Linked DNA regions of Homo sapiens. The protein of the gene in region 1 interacts with the protein of each later gene in a biochemical or structural test. Each region holds a gene or a part of one and is shown on either strand. Other genes may lie near its edges. The genes, in order: SNRNP70, NUDT21, PPM1G, TOP1 and CASP3.

Region 1 (3,348 bases):
AGCAAGCTGTGGGCTGTCACACATCACAGGTGGGTCGCCCCAGTTTTTTTGTTTTTTGTTTTTTTTTTTGAGACAGAGTCTTGCTCTGGCACCCAGGCTGGATGGAATGCAGTGACTCTATCTTGGCTCACTGCAACCTCTGCCTCCCAGGTTTAAGCAATTCTCTGCCTCAGCCTCCCGAGTAGATGGGATTACAGGCACCCGCCACCACGCCCAGTTAATTTTTGTATTTTTAGTAGAGATGCGGTTTCAACATCTTGGCCAGGCTGGTCTCGAACTCCTGACCTCATGATCCACCCGCCTCGGCCTCCCAAAGTGCTGGGATTACAGGCGAGCCACCACGCCTGGCCTGGTTGCCCCAGCTCTTAACAGCGTCAGCTACCAGGTTCTCAGGTCCACGGACATCACATACCTCCGAACTCCAAAGGATGCCCATGATTCTACATCAACAGGGCCCTTTATGTTTCAGGAAGCTCAAGTTTATTTCTGATACTTGCAGCCAAACTGACCTTGCCTGAGACAGCAAATGACAATGAGGAGACCGAATGCAGGAGGCTCAGAGGGCAGAGGCTGCCTCTGTGTTGCTCAACTAGAAGCCCGGCACACAGCTGGTGATCCAATAGGTACTTGCTGAATCAGTAAAAGAGTGAACAAGAGCAACAGCAAGCAGCAGAAGCAGATGAGCGAGTGACATTTACAACCCCAGCATGCGTCACTGCCAAGCTGGGCGCCCAGTACACTGAGCTCAGTGAACTCGGGGTTATTTCCACTAAGAGGAGTACAATGAGGCAGGAAAAGGGGACCCCCAGCTAGCAAGGGCGGACGCCAGCATGTGGGCTCAGGCCTCTCCAGGCTGGTGCCCCTGCTCCTCACAGTAACCCAGAACGAGGAGGCAGGCAGCTGTCAGAAATGTGATGGCCACAAGAGAGAGAAGCCGGAGATGAGGACGCGATGGGAGAGGTGGGCCGGCAGGAGACAGAGAAGCAGAAAGCAGCAGAGAAGGGAGAACAAGGCCACCAGGCCCAGGGCCCCCGAGAGCCCGTCGAAGGCAGGATGTGCTCACCTAGCCGCCGGGGCCTCCAGCCCTTCACGGTTCGGCCCCTCTCCACGTCCACAAGGACCCTCCTGCCATCAATCTTCTTGCCATCTGCGTGTTTGTAAGCGGCTGTAACAGATGTGGGGAGGGGGAGGGGAGAGGAGTCCCCAGAGGGTCCTCTAGTCAGGACAGGCCCAGCTCTACAGAATCCCCGCCCCGTGTCCCCATCATCACGCACACGCACACGCCCAACAGACAGCCAGGCAACTGACAGCCAGACCAACCCTCTCCCAAACCGGTGAAGGGCCTGCTCCATCTCAGCGTCTGCTTCCTCTCAGCGCCCCAACCACTCCTGGTCGGGGGAGACGTCCACCCTCACCCGCCACCCCCTAGGCTCCCCGGCCCTTCCTCTCCCACATGATGGAACAGCCCCCTCCCGCCAGGGCGGCCAAAATCGCTGCAAAGAAACTGAAGGTTAACTCCACGCTGGACTCTGCTGTGGGGGAGGGGGCTCCTCCACAACCCCAAGCATGCACCCTGAGACACCAAGCCGGGGCAGGAGGCCCAGCTGGGACGCTCCGCACCCCAGACCACACCGGTTTTTTCTGTTTTTGTTTTTTTTGGAGGGGGGTGAGTGTGGGGGGAACAGACATCAGAACAGAAAATGAACCAGAAGGGGGTGGGAGAAATCTTCAGGAAATGGCAGGGAGCAGAGAGGCGGGTTATACACTCCCAGGGGGCCTGGCGGGGCCCCTGCAGCAGGGGAGAGGGGCAGTGGAGGAAGCATGGGGAGCCGTGCGGTGCTACTGAAAATCCCTGCCTTACCTGAGACGACTGACTCTGCCTCCCCCCAGCCCTGCCCCATCTCGCCCTCCACACCCCCGGCTCAACACGTGCTGGGAGCGCACCCCAGCCTGAGCCTGCCAGGAAAGGGGAGTCGTAGAGGGGAGACGGGGGAGAGGCTCACTGCTGCTCTCGGGCAGCGCGTAGCAGAAGGCAAGCCTGAGGCCCTGGCCTGTGATCAACGTGGGGCTGTCATGAAGGCCAAAAAGTCCCCGTTCCCCCACCCAGCCCTGGCCTAGGGGGCTGTCCTCAACCAACCGTAATACCCTGCCCCGCCCCAGCCCGCTCCCCCCCAAATAACAACCAGAGGAAGAGAAAAAGGTGCCATTTACCGATGCCGGCCTTGCGGGTGTCCAAACCGAGCGGGATGGGGGGGGCTCGGCAACTCCTGGGGGCCTGGCGAGGAGGCGGGCTTCCCGGGGGGGGGACACGGGACCGCTTACCTGGAGCCCCCAAGCTTACCTGAGCACGCGCACAGACCCCACACCCACCACCACGGGGTCAGCTAAAGCTACAGGGAGGGGAAGTGGGGGGTTCTAGGGAGCCAGGAGAGGGAGAGGAACCACATCTCCTGTACCACCTGGAGACAGGCAGAGGACGTGGTAGACCCCAAAGAAATCTCAAGGAGGCCTTAGAGTGGGGGAGACGAGGATTATCATCCAAGCTGGGCGCTGGAAAGCCCTGGACTATCTCGTGTGAATTTACAAAGAAGGCTAGGGAGGCCTCAGAAACCTGTCCGCCCTCACCAATCCCCGAGTCACACTGAACTAGGCACACAGCCCACCCCCTCCGAGGACCAGGAGTGACTTCTCCACCTCCAAATCCATGCTCCCTCCCACCAGCTGCGTCTGCAGAGGCTGGCACACAGGGGTCCAGGAGACGGTGCTGCCCGTGCTCTGAGGAGGGGCCGCTTGGCCCCTGAACCCACGGGAGGGGAGTGGGGAAAGGCATTTAAGGACCAGGATCAAAGTCAAGCGAAGGAACCCCGCTCGGGTTCAGAGTCCCAAACCCCAAAACAGGCCCATCCCGGGAGGAACAGCAAAGAAAACATGTGATTGTGTTCGTCTAGGCCTCTCTCTCTCTTTCCCTCTCTCAAGTCTCTAGACAGTGGAAGGTTCTTTAGTAAAAACCTACGACACCTTCAGCTGCTAGCAGCCTACCCCTTGGTCCCTCCCACACCCCAAGCCCCAATTCCATGCACTTTAGGGAGCTCCTGACCACCTCTGGAGAGCTGCTGGACACCACAGCCAGCCCCCTCGGGAGGCCTCAACCACAGTAAGGAAGACAGAAAGGGGGCAGAGCACCCCAAAACTAGCAGCCAAAAAGACTCTCCAGGGCCAGCACAGTAGCAGCCCCATAGAAAGCACGGGGGCAGGGAGGGAAGGCTGAAGGGCTCCAGTGGAGCCCTGGCCTGGAGCCCTGCCCTCGGTGTTCCTGCCACCTCGCCGCTGACATCACGAAGCCGGGTC
Region 2 (4,276 bases), on another chromosome or scaffold:
TTTCTCTTTTTGTCCTCTAAACCTATTTACTAGCCTTTGGCATTTATTCTATTCAGTCTCCTTATTGTTTCCTTCTCCTCATCTGAATCTTCTACCCACCATATCTAATCGAAAACTCTCTTCCTTTACCAATAATTTAAAATATGGCTCAAACTGTTAAAGACAGTTTTCATCTTGCCTAATAAGGATCAAATTTTTCTTTAAAGATAGTTAAAAAATCCATACTTATATGTTGTAAGCCCTTAATTAAAGCCTTACAGCAAGAAGCCTTTGAGTACGAATTTAGGCCACATTTGCCCATCCAAGGTATCTATTCTACCAAAAGCCCTTGACATTAATAGTCAACATTATTGTATCTACCCCACTCAGCCATTCTTGAAAGGGGAAAAAATCAAGGTTGCCAAAACTTTAAAAATTACTTTAATTCCAGAAGCCAAGTTCTAGGCATATGAAAAAGCTCTAAAATAATTAAAATATACCATTCCAGGATGCTTTAAAAATTTAAAGAACATCCCCGGTAGATCCAATGCTAAATCTAAAACCATCATCCATAGCAGCAGCAGATATGCTACATAGAACGACGTGCCAAGCAATTTTTTAAAACGCTTTACATATATTAACATTTAATTCTGACAACCTGAGTTAGAAAGAATTAAGGATAGCCATTACACATCTCTGTTGCAAGAGCCAGCTCCAATATATCAGTAAGGAGATGTGAAGATGAAATGTCAGAATTTTCACCTGTGAAATCAGAGTGCCAGCCCAGACATACATATTGTTCTCATCATACTGTGAGCTTCATAAAGCAGGGGCTACACCTTACTTCCTCACCACTGTATATCCAGTATTGTGCACAGTGCCTGGTACAAAGTAGGCATTCATGCAATATTTCCTAAAATAAAATATACTGGGGGAGAGGGCATTTGTTTTCAACTTAATGTTAACTCAGGTGAACTTAAGTTCACAACACAATTATTATTTCTGAATATTTGTATTTACACAGGAGAGGAAATGTACTGTAAATCAACCCATAATTTTAATAGAGCGAAGATTAAAATATCTTACTGAAAGCTAACTATTTTGCCAATTCTACAAAATGGTTGGATGCAAATTAATTCAGTAATCAAGACAAAACAAGAAAAGACTGTGGGTTTTAGTTCTAATAACCACCGAAAGTAATCCAGAAGCTGTGCTTTCACACTTTTAAAAAGGATAACATTTGCCTTTACCATTTGATGGATTTTTTCTTAATTTTTAAAAAAATTTTTGTAGAGACAGCCTATGTTGCCCAGACTGATCTCCAACTCCTGGCCTCAAGTGATCCTCCCACCTCAGCCTCCCAAGGTGCTGGGAGTACAGTCGTGAGCCGCCACTCCTGAGAACTTTTATACACACAACTATCAACTAATTCCAGATTTTATAAACCCAGCATTTCCATTATCTAAATTTCCAAGCCAACACGTTTTGCAAAATAAAACAATGTTAACCATCTTTTCAACTTCAAATCACTTTTGGTTGGGGGACGGGGAGACAATGTCCGTTTATTTTAATATGAAACAGAGAAACACCTAAACTGCCTTACGAAAACATCAATACCACCAAATCCTTGCACTTGTACCCTGACTGGCATAAACTGGCCACTTTCCTCCATCCTGGCATAAAATGGAGGCACCGCGTTGCCTCGAAAACAAATCCTCAGAAACGATTTTAAAAAGCATTACTGACAATTTCTTGATTAAGACACCCCAAACGCCAATTACCTGCTACAGCGAGTCTGCTTCTGAGAATGACCTTGAAATGCAATGGTTTGAAGTGTTGAAACAGAAAGGTGTTGAAAATAAAACACAGCCCACAATGGGTTTTCTGGTACAAACATTCTGGTTCCCTCCAGTCTGAAAGCCCAACCATAGCAGCATCCTTACTCCCAAGGAGGGGCCTACTTGTGGTGCCTGGGATGCCGGCATTGAGACATCAGACGACGCGAAGGCATAAGGCATGGGGCAGGGCAGACAGCCCTGAGCACATGAATAAAATGTGTTGTATTCAAAAACTGAAGTATTAAGTGGCACCTAAAAGGAAGAAAACTAGACCTAGGCATTACAGCTAGATCTCGAAACCTTACTGTCAGAGTGAAATCTGCAAAAATGATACTAGGTTATACCATTCGTATCACATCAACACTCACAAAGCAATACCATGTACGTGATGCGAAAGCATAAACAATTCACTGGAAGGATTAAAAAAACACACATTTTGAAGTCGGTTACCTCTGGAGAGGTGGGGAAAGGATGAGTTAAAAGCAAACTCCGTTTTTCCCCATTATGACCGAATACATAGGATGGGAACAAGCCTTCCTTTCAGAAAAGGACTCTAACCCTGGAGGCTGGAGGATGAGAAAGGGGCCTGAGAGAGGGAGGAAGGCGCGCATCCGCCAGCGGGAGTTGGAGGCGGGGAGGTGCAGAGGCGTGAAGCGCGCCGAAAAGCCGGGGGCGCGTCGGAGAGTCTATAGGAGCTTTCACGAGAGAAATGCCCGCCAAGGCCGCGCCGCACTTACAGGTTGATGGTGCGCTCCAGGGTGAGGGGCTTCGTCTGCTGGATGTACTTGTTGCCGAACTGAGTGACCCCCCGGGGCCAGCCGGTCTGCGAGCGATTGGGCGGTACCACAGACATGCTGGCGAGCTCCGGCGCTGACGGCGAGCAGAAAGTGGCAGGCAGGGTAGACTTTCCCCGTGCGGGAAGCGGTTATCTGCAATCCCCTCAGCGGCTACTGCCCGCCATTAACAGGACAGCGCAAGAGGAGGCGTAGGCACGCCGGAAGTGAACCCGGAGCCTCTGGCGGCAGGAAGTAGAGGGGCGGTGGCCTGCCAGACCGAGCTCCAGTGGGCCAATTGCTGGTGGGATGGCTGCAATAGCTGGAGCTCCCATTGGTAAACCGGGTATAGGTTCCGCCTTCTCTTACTTTGGTGCTTCCCATTGGGTAGGGCCGGGAAACACGATAAAGGGGACATGCCGGGAGTTGCAGTACCCTCAGGAAGGTAGCGTCTTGATCTGCGTGGCGTGGTTCTGTGCCTTGGGAAGAGATGAATGGGAAGCGGCCAGCGGAGCCCGGCCCAGCCCGGGTGGGAAAAAAGGGAAAGAAGGAGGTGATGGCGGAGTTTTCGGACGCTGTTACGGAAGAAACCTTGAAAAAGCAGGTGGCTGAGGCCTGGAGCCGCAGGACGCCGTTCAGTCACGGTAACCGGGTGCTCTCAGGGAGGGGCCGCCACGCAGAGGTCTAGGGATCTCTGAAAAAGCCCTGGGACTCGCGCCCAGCCTTGGGCAGCGGGGCCGCAAGGGAAGAGGCTCTTAGAGGACTTTGGCCACCTCCTACTCTCCTGCCTCGGCTGCTGCTCCCTTTCACTCCAAATTCGGTTGCAATTTAGAAACGTGAGAAGAGGGAGAAATGGAGGCCGGAGAGTTTTGGGAAGCAGAGGGTATGCAAGAGATAGTTGCATTCTGGAGTCAAAGATTACTGAGTTAGAATCCTCTCCCCTGATTGGGCGTCGCCAGGCAATGGAATTAACCTTATTAAACTTCAGTTGCTTCCTAAGTAAAATGGGATAGTTCATAATATTTACCTCGGAAAGTCGGTGAATGGGAGCGACACACTAATGCTTGCAGGCTTCAGTAAATGTTTCCCTGAGTAAGGCCCAATACACATGTGGACAAATACAGGAGTGGCTGATGTCATTTCTCCTGCAAGGGCATTGCTCAGCTGTCCCAGGAGAGTCTAGCCAGGGCATTTGTCGTGAGCTGCCAGCTTGACTCCCTAGTGTACTCGTCTCTACGCGCCTGTAGTTTGACTCCATGATGTATGAAAATAAACGCGCTTTGACCAAGGAAAGGCGCCTACGTTGAACGATTCCAGCCTCAGCTTTAAATATCACCTTAGGTGTTCAGAGCTCTGCTTCATGCGCCAGGCATCCCCTTCTAGAGTTTGCCGTAATTTTTCTTTCCGTTGTCAAGTGCTTTGAAGAGGTGAGTCCTGGGTAGGCTGGATGCCTATAGAAAACGATAGCTTAGTGTTTAAGTGCAGGCTCTGTACTCTCAGTTTCTTCATCTGTAGAATGGGGAGAGTGATAATGTCTCCCTCAGAGCTGTTAAAAAGATTGAATGAGATCATGGGCCTGGCACCTGGTAGGTGGTGCTGATGATTACAGGATGGTGATCTAGCCAGCCGGAAGCAGTGGGTAAATGTTGGGGTAGAAATCAAGGAATTAGAGGTGGTTATGCCCGA
Region 3 (3,521 bases), on another chromosome or scaffold:
CTTACCACTCAAGCATGGGCAAGAGTGAGATCCTGTCTCAAAATAAATACATAAATAATTTAAAAAATAAAAAGGCCGGGCACAGTGGCTCATGCCTGTAATTCCAGCACTTTGGGAGGCTGAGGCGGGCAGATCACTTGAGGCCAGAAGTTCAAGACCAGACTCGCCAGCATGGGAAAACCCCTTCTCTACTAAAAATACAAAAAAGTTAGCTGGGCATGGTGGCGAGTGCCTGTAATCCCAGCTACTTGGGAGGCTGGGGTAGGCAAATTGCTAGAACCCAGGAGGCAGAAGCTGCAGTGAGCCGAGATGGCACCATTGCACTCCAGCCTGGGCAACAAGAGCAAAACTCCAACTTAAAAAAATAAAAAGAAAATAGTTTCTCCATGCTCATGGGCATACATGTGATATAATTCTATACTAGCTTTGAACTGTGAATGGGTACTGCATGCTAATCAAATGCAAATAATGCGTTTTTATAAAAGTTGCTAACCACATTCTAGACAAAGAAATTCTGGCCAGGCGCAGTAGCTCACGTCTGTAATCCCAGCACTTTGGGAGGCGGAGGCGGGCAGATCACCTGAGGTCAGGAGTTCAAGACCTGCCTGACCAACACAGAGAAACCCCATCTCTACTAAAAATACAAAAAATAAGCCAAGTGTCGTGGCACATGCCTGTAATCCCAGCTACTCAGGAGGCTGAGGCCGGAGAATCACTTAAACAGAAAGGCCAGTGAGCCGAGATCACACCACTGCACTCTAGACTGGGTGACAGAGACTCTGTCTAAAAAAAAAAAAGAGAGAGAGAGAGAAATTCTGACCTGGTTTAGTAAGTAAAAAGCGCTTTAAGCTATTGGCTATTGATATGAGATGCTAATCTGAAGATAAGAAAATAAATGTTTTTCAACCTTCAATGCCCTAAGGTAGAACCCCATAGCATACTTGTGATATTTCTTTTTATATTTTTTCCATTAATTTAATGACTGAAACAAATATGCAGGTATTTTAAGAATTTTCTGCTCAATACTATCTTTATAGTCAATTCTAGATGACCCCTTGACCACTAATAAGCCAGCTTCTACACAGCAATAAATAGCCAGCCTCCTCAAAATTATACTATAGATATTGACACTGCCTTTAATAAAAGGAAAATATGATTTATAGCACAAAAAATTCCTGGCCGGGCACGGTAGCTCACATCTGTAATCCCAGCACTTTGGGAGGCCGAGGCAGGTGGATCACAACGTCAGGAGTCTTGAGACCAGCCTGGCCAACATAGTGAAATCCTGTCTCCACTAAAAATACAAAAAAAAATTAGCTGGCCTGGTGGCAGACTCCTGTAATCCCAGCTATTTGGAAGGCTGAGGCAGGAGAATCACTTGAACCCAAGAGGCGGAAGTTTCAGTGAGCCGAGATCAAGCCACTACACTCCAGCCCGGGTGACAATGCGAGACTCCGTTTCAAAAAAAAAAAAAATTCCTAACTCTCCATAGAAAGCAGTTTTGTCACTTCCAGAGAACCTCACAACCAAATATTAAATGTACTCTTGTCCCCTTAAGACTACATCAACTGATGGGCCAGGCATGGTGGCTCACGCCTGTAATGCCAGCACTTTGGGAGGCCGAGGCGGGCGGATTAAGAGGTCAGGAGTTGGAGACCAACCCGGCCAACATAGTGAAACCCTGTCTCTATTGAAAATACAAAAAATTAGCCGGGCATGGTGGCAGGCGCCTGTAATCCCAGCTACTCGGGAAGCTGAGGCAGGAGAATCGCTTGAACTCAGGAGGCAGAGGTTGCAGTGAGCCAAGATCATGCCATTATACTCCAGCCTGGGCAACAGTGCAAGACTCCGTCTCGGAGAAAAAAAAAAAAAAAAAAGACTACATCAACTGAATCTATTTTCAGATTTGACTTCTTATTTAGCCAACAAAAACTCAAGGGCCTTACCTTATAATTTTTCAGGCACCCCTCCACAACCTACCTCATTTTTTTTTTTTTTTTTTTAAGATGGAGTCTCACCCTGTCGCCCAGGCTGGAGTGCAGTGGTGCGATCTCGGCTCACTGCAACCTCCGCCTCCCAGGTTCAAGCGATTCTCCTGCCTCAGCCTCCGGAGTAGCTGGGACTACAGGCGTGCGCCACCATGCCCAGCTAATTCTTGTATTTTAGAAGAGACAGGGTTTCACCATATTGGCCAGAATGATCTCGGTCTCTTGATCTCGTGATCCGCCCACCTCGGCCTCCCAAAGTGCTGGGATTACAGGCATGAGCCACCGTGCCCAGTGCCTACCTCTTAATCCCAAAGTACATACCTCATCCACTTTTTTCATGGAGAAAGGAGGAAGGAGGAGAACATCAACTGTGGTGGTTTTTTTGTTTGTTTTTTTGAGACGGAGTCTGTCACCCTGGCTAGAGTGCAGCGGTGAGATCTCGGCTCACTGGCCTTCCTATTCAAGCAATTCTCTGGCCTCTGGCTAATTTTTGTATTTTCAGTAGAGACGGGGTTTCACCATGTTGACTAGGCTGGTCTCGAACTGACCTCAGGTGATCTGCCCCCCTCGGCCTCCCAAACTGCTGGGATTACAGGCGTTAAGCCACCACGACTGGCCTGTGGTATTTTGATTACCTTTTCTCAAAACACCCTGGTTGCTGGGCATGGTGGCTCACAGCATTTTGGGAGGCAGAGGCGGGCCGATCACCTGAGGTCAGAAGTTCGAGACCAGCCTGACCAACATGGAGAGACCCCCATCTCTACTAAAAATACAAAATTAGCCAGGCGTGGTGGCACATGCCTGTAATCCCAGCTACTCAGGAGGCTGAGGCAGGAGAATCGCTTGAACCCGGGAGGCGGAGGTTGCAGTGAGCCGAGATCATGCCATTGTACTCCAGCCTGGGCAACAAGATAGAAACTCCGTCTCAAAAACAAAACAAAACAAAACAAACAACAACAACACCCTGGTCACACAGGAAGAGAAGCTTGAAACAGGCAGAAAGTAAAAATGCCAGCTATTGATGATTGCCATTTTTGTCTCAAGAGTCCTCTCTACGGCTAAATCTATCCATCAGTCAGCATGTCAACAACCTTTAGTGGTATGATAACCTTACCTCAAATGAAGCATTAGGACCAAGCAAATAGGGTAAATAAACTTTATTAATTTTTGGATTAAGCCCTAAAGCTTCAGAGGAATGGGAGTACTTTATATTTTCTGGAAAGATAAGATTCAGGGAAGAGGCTAGAACTCATAGTTATTTTCTTGCAATAGCAAAGAAACTATGCTACACTTTGAAGAGAAAAAAAGCCAGAAGGAACACTATCAATGAAGCAGAATAGGATCCCAAACAATACTCTTCAAGAGGATTTGATTAGGCATATTTAACTATTGATTAGGCATATTTATTCAAACAAGGGCAACTTCAGAAACAGCACATTAGCAAGATTTTAATACCCTAAGCAGTTATCTCTCAGGAGGAAGATTAGGATGTAAGGAATAGTCTAGTAAGATCTCTACACACTAAACCGTCCC
Region 4 (3,521 bases), on another chromosome or scaffold:
ACAGGCGTAAGCCACCAAGCCTGGCCCAGGTTGGTGGGCTTAACAAACCAATAAAGCAAATTTTTCCTTCCCTATTAAGATATCAGGGACAGGTTTTGGGTCTCCAGCAGGGGTGGCTGGGCATTCAGTGAAGGGAAAGCTCTGCAGGAGCAGGGAAGGATAAAAGGTAGGGCTCATCTACCCCCCACCCTGAGTGCTTTAGCAGTTGTTCTGCAGCAGATGTGTCTTCTCTTGACTACAGATTCACCGTGGACTCAGAGGGAGGAAGAGAGAGTGTATGGGATGCCACAGAGCAGGCCAGGCTAAAGGGAGAGCCCAAGTCATCTGCCAGCAACCCTCCCCTTTAGGTACTGTGAGGCTCTGGCTGGGACTCCCTTCAACATTGTGTGCTTCATCTACTCACATTGAGTCTATCAAAAAGATCATCCTCGGGCTGCTTGTTCTCCATAAATAGTTGTAGGTTCTTAAAAACCTAAAAGATATAAGTGAATCCTAATTATTACTCTTGAAAAAAATCCTAACTTTAGAAATAACCCCAAACTTAAAGAAACTTGCAAAGAAAAAGGCACAAGGAACACGCATACATCCGTCACCGAGATTCACTGTTAACATTTTACCCCATTCATCATTTGCACAGTGTGCATGTATGCTCACTCTCTCCATGTGTATATTTACAGATATATATACATAATTGTTTGTTCTGAGCCATTTATAAGCACTTACTTATAATATGGTCCTAAAGTACATTTATAAGTACTTACTTATAATATGGTCCTAAAGTACATTTATAAGTACTTACTTATAATATGGTCCTAAACATTTCAGTGTGTATGTTCTAAAAATAGATATTCCCTTACATTTACACAGTATCAGCTTCAAAAATTTACATTGATACATACTGTTATCTAATCTGTCCAGAGTACTTCCACAGCCAGCAAAACCTGATTACTGATTATGGTGTCCTTATGAGAAGAGGTGTCTTTATAAGAAGAGGACTGCTGGTGGGCTGGATTATTAGGATCCTGCACACTGTAAGTCTCTGGTTCAAGCCCAATACTATGGAAAAGATTAGGTTGGGACTACAGAGCTATAGTACCCTCTTCAGTGATGGGCTCAGAGATCTGGGGACTAACATTAACCTTTCACTCAGTCAGGAGTTGGAGAAAGGCTGAGCAAAGATGAAAAGTGACAAATGTACCACATGACCAGGGGATACTAAGATATAGTTAAATCATATGCTGAGTTTGCTCTAAGGGCCTATTCTACAGCATGCTCCATTGAATACTGCTATAGGAGAAGGCCACTCCTTACCAGGAAGGTAGCACAGGGCGGAACAGTGACTAAAAGGAGGTACACAAGATATCAAATAATACCTCTCCCCTCTTTCAAGTCATTTATTTTTATTTATTTTAATATGAGAGGCAAGGTCTCACTATTTTGCCCAGGCTGGAGTACAGTGGCTATTCACAGGTGTGATCACAGCACACTACAGCCTCAAACTTTTGGTCTCCAGTGATCCTCCTGTCTCAGCCTTCTGAATAGCTGGGTCTACAGGCATGTGCCATGTTGCCTGTCTCAAGTCACTTTTGCTGGTGCCCAGCAAAGTGCAAAGCACACAAAAAAGCAGTCAACCCATGCTTGTTGAATAATGGAAAACAAGTCAGACAGTACAGGTACATTAACTTACTCGTTTCTCAACAGGGACCTTGTTATAGTATCTGATGGAGTCCTTCCCGAGGAAGTCAAACTCTACCACATATTCCTGACCATCCAACTCTGGGTGTAGATTGATGTGCTCCACACGAAGTGAGCAGCAGCCCACAGTGTCCGCTGTTTCTCCTTCCTCCTTTTCATTGCCTGCTCTCAGAGCAAGCTGCCCAGGAAAGAAAGAAAAGATGAGCATGAATGGAAGAGACATGATCCTTACACAATTTCGTTCTGTGTTTTTTTTTTTTTTTTTTTTGAGACAGTCTCGCTCTGTCGCCAGGCTAGAGTGCAATGGCGCAATTTTGGCTCACTGCAAGCTCCGTCTCCCGGGTTCATGCCATTCTCCTGCCTCAGCCTCCGAAGTAGCTGGGACTACAGGCGCCCGCCACCACGCCAATTTTTATTTTTTTTTTTTTTTTTGTATTTTTAGTAGAGATGGGGTTTCACCACATTGGCCAGGATGGTCTCTTGACCTCGTGTTCCACCTGCCTTGGCCTCCCAAAGTGCTGGGATTACAGGCGTGAGCCACTGCGCCCAGCCTTTTGACCCTTATGCAATTTCTAGGCATCCAAAACAGAAGCCTCCCAATTCTGTTTGAAGCCACAGCATCAGTCAGCATGGCCTGGGAACTCTGGATTCTGCAGTGTTACTTCCTCCCCCACTCACTATGAAATCTATAGGGATGTTAAATATTCATGCTCCTTTTCTTTCTATTCTGTCCTCTGAAATAGGGATGGAGAAAAGGAAAAAAAAAATTAAATAAGGCAGCAAATGAGGGAGTGCTGCTACTCTGGGCAATCAAACTCAAAAAGCTAGTGTGAATTTTGAGACAATTCAGAACTTATGTTAAAATACAAGACTGGGGGAAAAACATGAACTTTTTTTTCTTCTCGTGAGTACCAAGAAATTGATCTCCTCTAGAGCGTGGTCTTTAAAACTATATAATGGTGATACCTGCATGGTTTATTTAAACAATTTTATAAGTTATAACCAACTTTCTAAAGGAATGAAATAGAGTTAAAAAAAGATCAGAATCTACTGCTCACAGTAAGGCTAAGCATTGTTTTGTGCAACTTTTGATTCAGTTTTACATACAAATATATGTATGTTGAGTTGTGATATACAGTATGTGGCACAGGGCCTGGGGCAGAGCAGAAACTCCCTTTGTTAAGCTCAACACTAGACAATGCCGATGGGAAGATGCTCTCACCTTGTCGATGAAGTACAGGGCTACAGCTCTCTGCCGGACTTTCATCTCTTTGGACTTCCAGTCTTCTCGATACTGGTTCCGGATCTTGTCCACACATTTTTTCAGCCGCCGAGCAGTCTCGTATTTCTGCCAGTCCTTCTCACCCTGTAAAGACCCAAACCCAAATGTAGATTACTTTGGGACAGTGTAGTAAAGACAGACTTTGAATATAGCCAGGCAAGGTGGCGCAAGCCTATAATCCCAGCTAGCTAATAGGGAGGCTAAGACACAAGAATTGCTTGAACGCAGGAGGCAGAGGTTGCAGTGAGCCAAGATCACGCCACTGCACTCCACCATGGGTGACAAAGCAAGACTTTGAACAAAAGAGCAGGAACTTGACCTTAAGCAAACGTAAAAAAGAATAGTACTGAAGAGAGAGTTTGGCACATTTAACCTGTTAAGAATGCACATTGTCCCATCTCACTGCCAAGCACAACTGACTTCTAAGGCTTTCCCAGAAGAAAGTTTCTAGCTCTAATTCTCTAAAATGTTTATGTTCCTGGGAAAAACCCACATGGGATGTCCCAAAAACTAACTTCTGTCAACACAAAGCACATAATCACCC
Region 5 (3,521 bases), on another chromosome or scaffold:
CATTATTGTAAATAATTGAAAATATCTGTCTGGAAGTCACTTATCTAAAAAAACCTCTGCTATCTAGATTGGGGTCAGTAAACTTTTTTTTTAATGGGCTAAATATTAAGTGTTTTAGGCTTGTGGGCCATCTGGTTTCTGTTACAGCTACTCAATTCTATTCTTTTTTTTTTTTTTTTGAGACATGGTCTGGCTCTGTCACCCAAGCTGGAGTGCAGTGGTGCCATCATAGCTCACTGCAACTTTGAACTCTTGGGCTCCAGTGATACTCCTTCCTCAGCCTTCTGAGTAGCTAGGACTACAGACAGGCATGCCCCACCATGCCCAGCTAATTTCTGTATTTTCTTTTTTAGAGACAGGATCTCGCTATGTTGCCCAGGCTAGTCTTGAACTCCTGGCCTCAAGTGATCCTCCTGCCTTGGCCTCCAAAAGTGCTGGGATTACAGTTGTGAGCCACTGTGCCCAGCCATAGCTGCTCAATTATACTGGTGAAACGGGCTTAGGACAATATGTAAGCGAATGGATGTGCCTATATTCCAACGAAAGTTGATAAAAACAGGCCTTAAGCTTGATCCCTGATCTAGACCAAGAGTCAGGCAAAAACAGGTCTAGGAACTACCAAACACTAACACCTACAGTCCATATACTCATGCACTTAACCTTAAGAGCATCTCACATTATACACAATTCCAAAAATACTGTTGGAAAAAGATTAAATGTAGTAAATTAAAGGAGTCAACGTGAGAAAACAGTTATGATTTTTAACCAGAGGTGAACAGCCTCACATTTACAGACTGAAGTTAAATCCTGAAAGCGTGACTTGACCTTTGAGTCCTACAGATGATGGATCATGGGACTTATGACTCCCAGCTCCCGACACCCCTTCCCCACGTGCTCTGGGTGCCTCCTAAGGAGGTAGGTACTTTACAAGCATATGATAGCTAGTCCACGAGGGGATACTCCTAATAAAAGGCAGAGGCTGTGAAAGCCGGGACTGTGAGGGCAACTTACCAAAGGATCGAAACAACCCTAAACCTGTCTGGGGCTTCCGTGCAACTTGTTATTGAAGTGGTGTTCTGCATGACATGAAAAGGTAGGGCCAGGCAGGGTGGTTCACACCTGTACTCCCAGCACTTTGGGAGGCCGAGGCAGGAGGATCCCTTGAGGCCAGGCATTGGAGACCAGCCTGGGCAACACAGCAAGACCCCCATCTCTACAAAAATAAAAAACAAAAATAACCAGGCATGGTGGCACATGTCTGTAGTCCTAGCTACTCAGGAGGATTACTGGAGCCCAGGAGTGCAGTGAGCCATAATCAGATCACTGCACTCCAGCCTGTCTCAAAAAAGAAAGAAAAAAAAAATAGTAGGAAAATGTGTAAATCACTTTCAAAGGATTTTTTTGAAGAGATGGGGTCTTACTTCACTGTAACCTCTGGCGTGTAGCTAGGACTGACTACAAGCACACACACTATGGTGGACTAATTGTTTTTTGTTTTTTTGTAGAGACAGGGTCTCGTTATGTTGCCCAGGCTGGTTTCAAACTCTCCACCTCAAGTGATCCTCCTGCCACAGCTCCCACGTAGCTGGGATTACAGGAGCAAGCCACTGCACTGGCTAAAATGATTTAAATGACAGCAACAACTCTCTAAAATGGGACTGCATTTTAAAAGTTTACTTTCTAGAAAAATCCCTTTGCTAAACAAAATTGTGAAATCTTTAGTGGTAACTTGTTAATAGTATTTCTGTAATCATATTGTTTAGTAATAAAATTAGTTTGTAATATTCAGGGCAGCCGAGAATAACAATACTGGGTTTCAGAAATAAACTTTCAGAATTTAAAGTATTACGAGAGATCCCAAATAAATAATAACAGACAAGAATTAAAAAGTGAATTTGAGTTTTATCTTTTTCCTTTTTCCATCTGCTAGTTATTGGAAGCATTAATAAGCAGAATATTCCAAAAAGACACGGGGAAAAAAAGGGTAAAATTCATCCATAACTAGGCAGTTTGTCCCCGGACTGAAAACTGGCATTGCATTTTAGTCGTAAAAACTCATAAACAAGAGGTCAAGAAACTCCTCCCAAACCTAAACCCTCTAATCCTATAGAGCGATTCGGGAGGGTAGAAAGCACCGGCGCTTGGGAGTCCTGCCTCTCCTGTGGTGTCCTTTTGGTTCCAGGACTAGGTTTCCAACTATGGGTCACACACCCTACTAGGCCTTTCCTTTCATCTTCCCTTCAGTTCTGTGAAAGTTTTAGCCCCATGTTAAAGACGAGGTTCAGAGAAGAAAAGTCAGTTTATGCAAAGCCACACAGCTGTCTGAGGTAGGAAGTCACTTGGTCTCTCTGGCCTGAGAGAGAGACCACTCTCTTTCCTCTTGCCCCACTGCTCGAGGTTTGCTTATTACACATCCCCATCTTTCTCTGATTATAAAGAATTCAATTTAAATACTCACGGTTCCAAATTTTTAATGGATTTTGAATCCACTGAGTTTTCAGTGTTCTCCATGGATACCTTTATTAACTAGAATACAAAGAAAATAGAAGTTAATAAAAAATCAGTCATAAAACCACTGCATTATATTAATTATCCCAGTGATTATTTTTCCAAATTAATACCTCAGTTCTCCCTCTACTGTTAAAGGTGTATGTGAGTCAGTTCTGGGGATAATGATTTCTTTGCAATGGTACATACAATTTAGCCTCTCTCTCTCTTTTTAATTGAGCTATGAATTATATATAGTGAACTACATAAAGCATATAGAAAGTATACAGCTCGATTTTTTATATTTACATACCCTCATCAGATCAAGATACAGATTACAGTTTATTTCTTTTGTAAGACAACACCTCGGGTCATTTCTAAGAACTGCAACTCAACACAGTTAAAACAAAAATCAAAAACTTCCCACCACAATGGTATAACTCACATAACACAATTCTACAATGCTTAGATTCCCAAGATACAGTATCAAGATGTTCCAAATCTCCATTAATCTTTATTCTTTTTTTTTTTTTCTTTTGAGGCAGGGTCTCACTCTGTCACCCAGGCTGGAGGGCAGCGGCGCAATCACGGCTCACTGCAGCTTCGATCTCCTGGACTCAAATTCTCCCGCCTCAGCCTCCCGAGTAGCTGGGATTACAGGCATGCACCACCATGTCTGGCTAATTTTTGTATTTTTTGTAGACATACGGTCTCGCTGTATTGCCCAGGCTGGTCTCAAACTCCTGAGTTCAAGTGATCTGCCCACCTAGGCCTCCTAAAGTGCTGGGATTACAGGCAAGAGCCACCGCACCCGGCCTAGTCTTTACTTTTAAAGTGGGTTTTGGAAGCCCAGCTTCTCATTTAGGGTAGTAAAATGGCCCAGGAAATGTAAAAGTAGAAACTAAAGTTTCTGCTTTCATTCTTCCATTACACAATTATATCTCACAAGGTGAACCAGTTCTTAGAATCAAAGCAACTATCACTTATTGAGCACTTAATATATACCAGGTACTTTGCAAGGCACTCAGTTTTAA

Evidence for each region.
Region 2: the proteins of SNRNP70 (region 1) and NUDT21 form a complex in vitro, tested with the Homo sapiens proteins (one study listed by BioGRID).
Region 3: the proteins of SNRNP70 (region 1) and PPM1G interact in far-western blotting, tested with the Homo sapiens proteins (one study listed by IntAct).
Region 4: the proteins of SNRNP70 (region 1) and TOP1 interact in a test that uses a peptide from one of them, tested with the Homo sapiens proteins (one study listed by BioGRID).
Region 5: of the proteins of SNRNP70 (region 1) and CASP3, one has a biochemical effect on the other in vitro, tested with the Homo sapiens proteins (one study listed by BioGRID).

The regions. Positions count from the first base shown.
Region 1 is NC_000019.10:49,102,451-49,105,798, reverse strand, and holds part of SNRNP70 (U1 small nuclear ribonucleoprotein 70 kDa), read right to left. Parts: intron 2,373-3,348; exon of another isoform or gene 2,212-2,372; intron 1,166-2,211; coding exon 1,064-1,165; intron 1-1,063. UniProt on the Homo sapiens protein: Component of the spliceosomal U1 snRNP, which is essential for recognition of the pre-mRNA 5' splice-site and the subsequent assembly of the spliceosome. SNRNP70 binds to the loop I region of U1-snRNA.
Region 2 is NC_000016.10:56,448,533-56,452,808, forward strand, and holds the start of NUDT21 (cleavage and polyadenylation specificity factor subunit 5), read right to left. Parts: upstream 2,801-4,276; 5' UTR 2,671-2,800; coding exon 2,555-2,670; intron 1-2,554. Other genes in the region: prolyl 3-hydroxylase OGFOD1, read left to right, coding at 3,081-3,234. UniProt on the Homo sapiens protein: Component of the cleavage factor Im (CFIm) complex that functions as an activator of the pre-mRNA 3'-end cleavage and polyadenylation processing required for the maturation of pre-mRNA into functional mRNAs.
Region 3 is NC_000002.12:27,403,089-27,406,609, forward strand, and holds part of PPM1G (protein phosphatase 1G), read right to left. Parts: intron 1-3,521.
Region 4 is NC_000020.11:41,112,322-41,115,842, reverse strand, and holds part of TOP1 (DNA topoisomerase 1), read right to left. Parts: intron 3,062-3,521; coding exon 2,918-3,061; intron 1,874-2,917; coding exon 1,688-1,873; intron 473-1,687; coding exon 404-472; intron 1-403. UniProt on the Homo sapiens protein: Releases the supercoiling and torsional tension of DNA introduced during the DNA replication and transcription by transiently cleaving and rejoining one strand of the DNA duplex.
Region 5 is NC_000004.12:184,635,943-184,639,463, forward strand, and holds part of CASP3 (caspase-3 isoform a preproprotein), read right to left. Parts: intron 2,527-3,521; coding exon of another isoform or gene 2,512-2,526; coding exon 2,459-2,511; intron 1-2,458. UniProt on the Homo sapiens protein: Thiol protease that acts as a major effector caspase involved in the execution phase of apoptosis. Following cleavage and activation by initiator caspases (CASP8, CASP9 and/or CASP10), mediates execution of apoptosis by catalyzing cleavage of many proteins.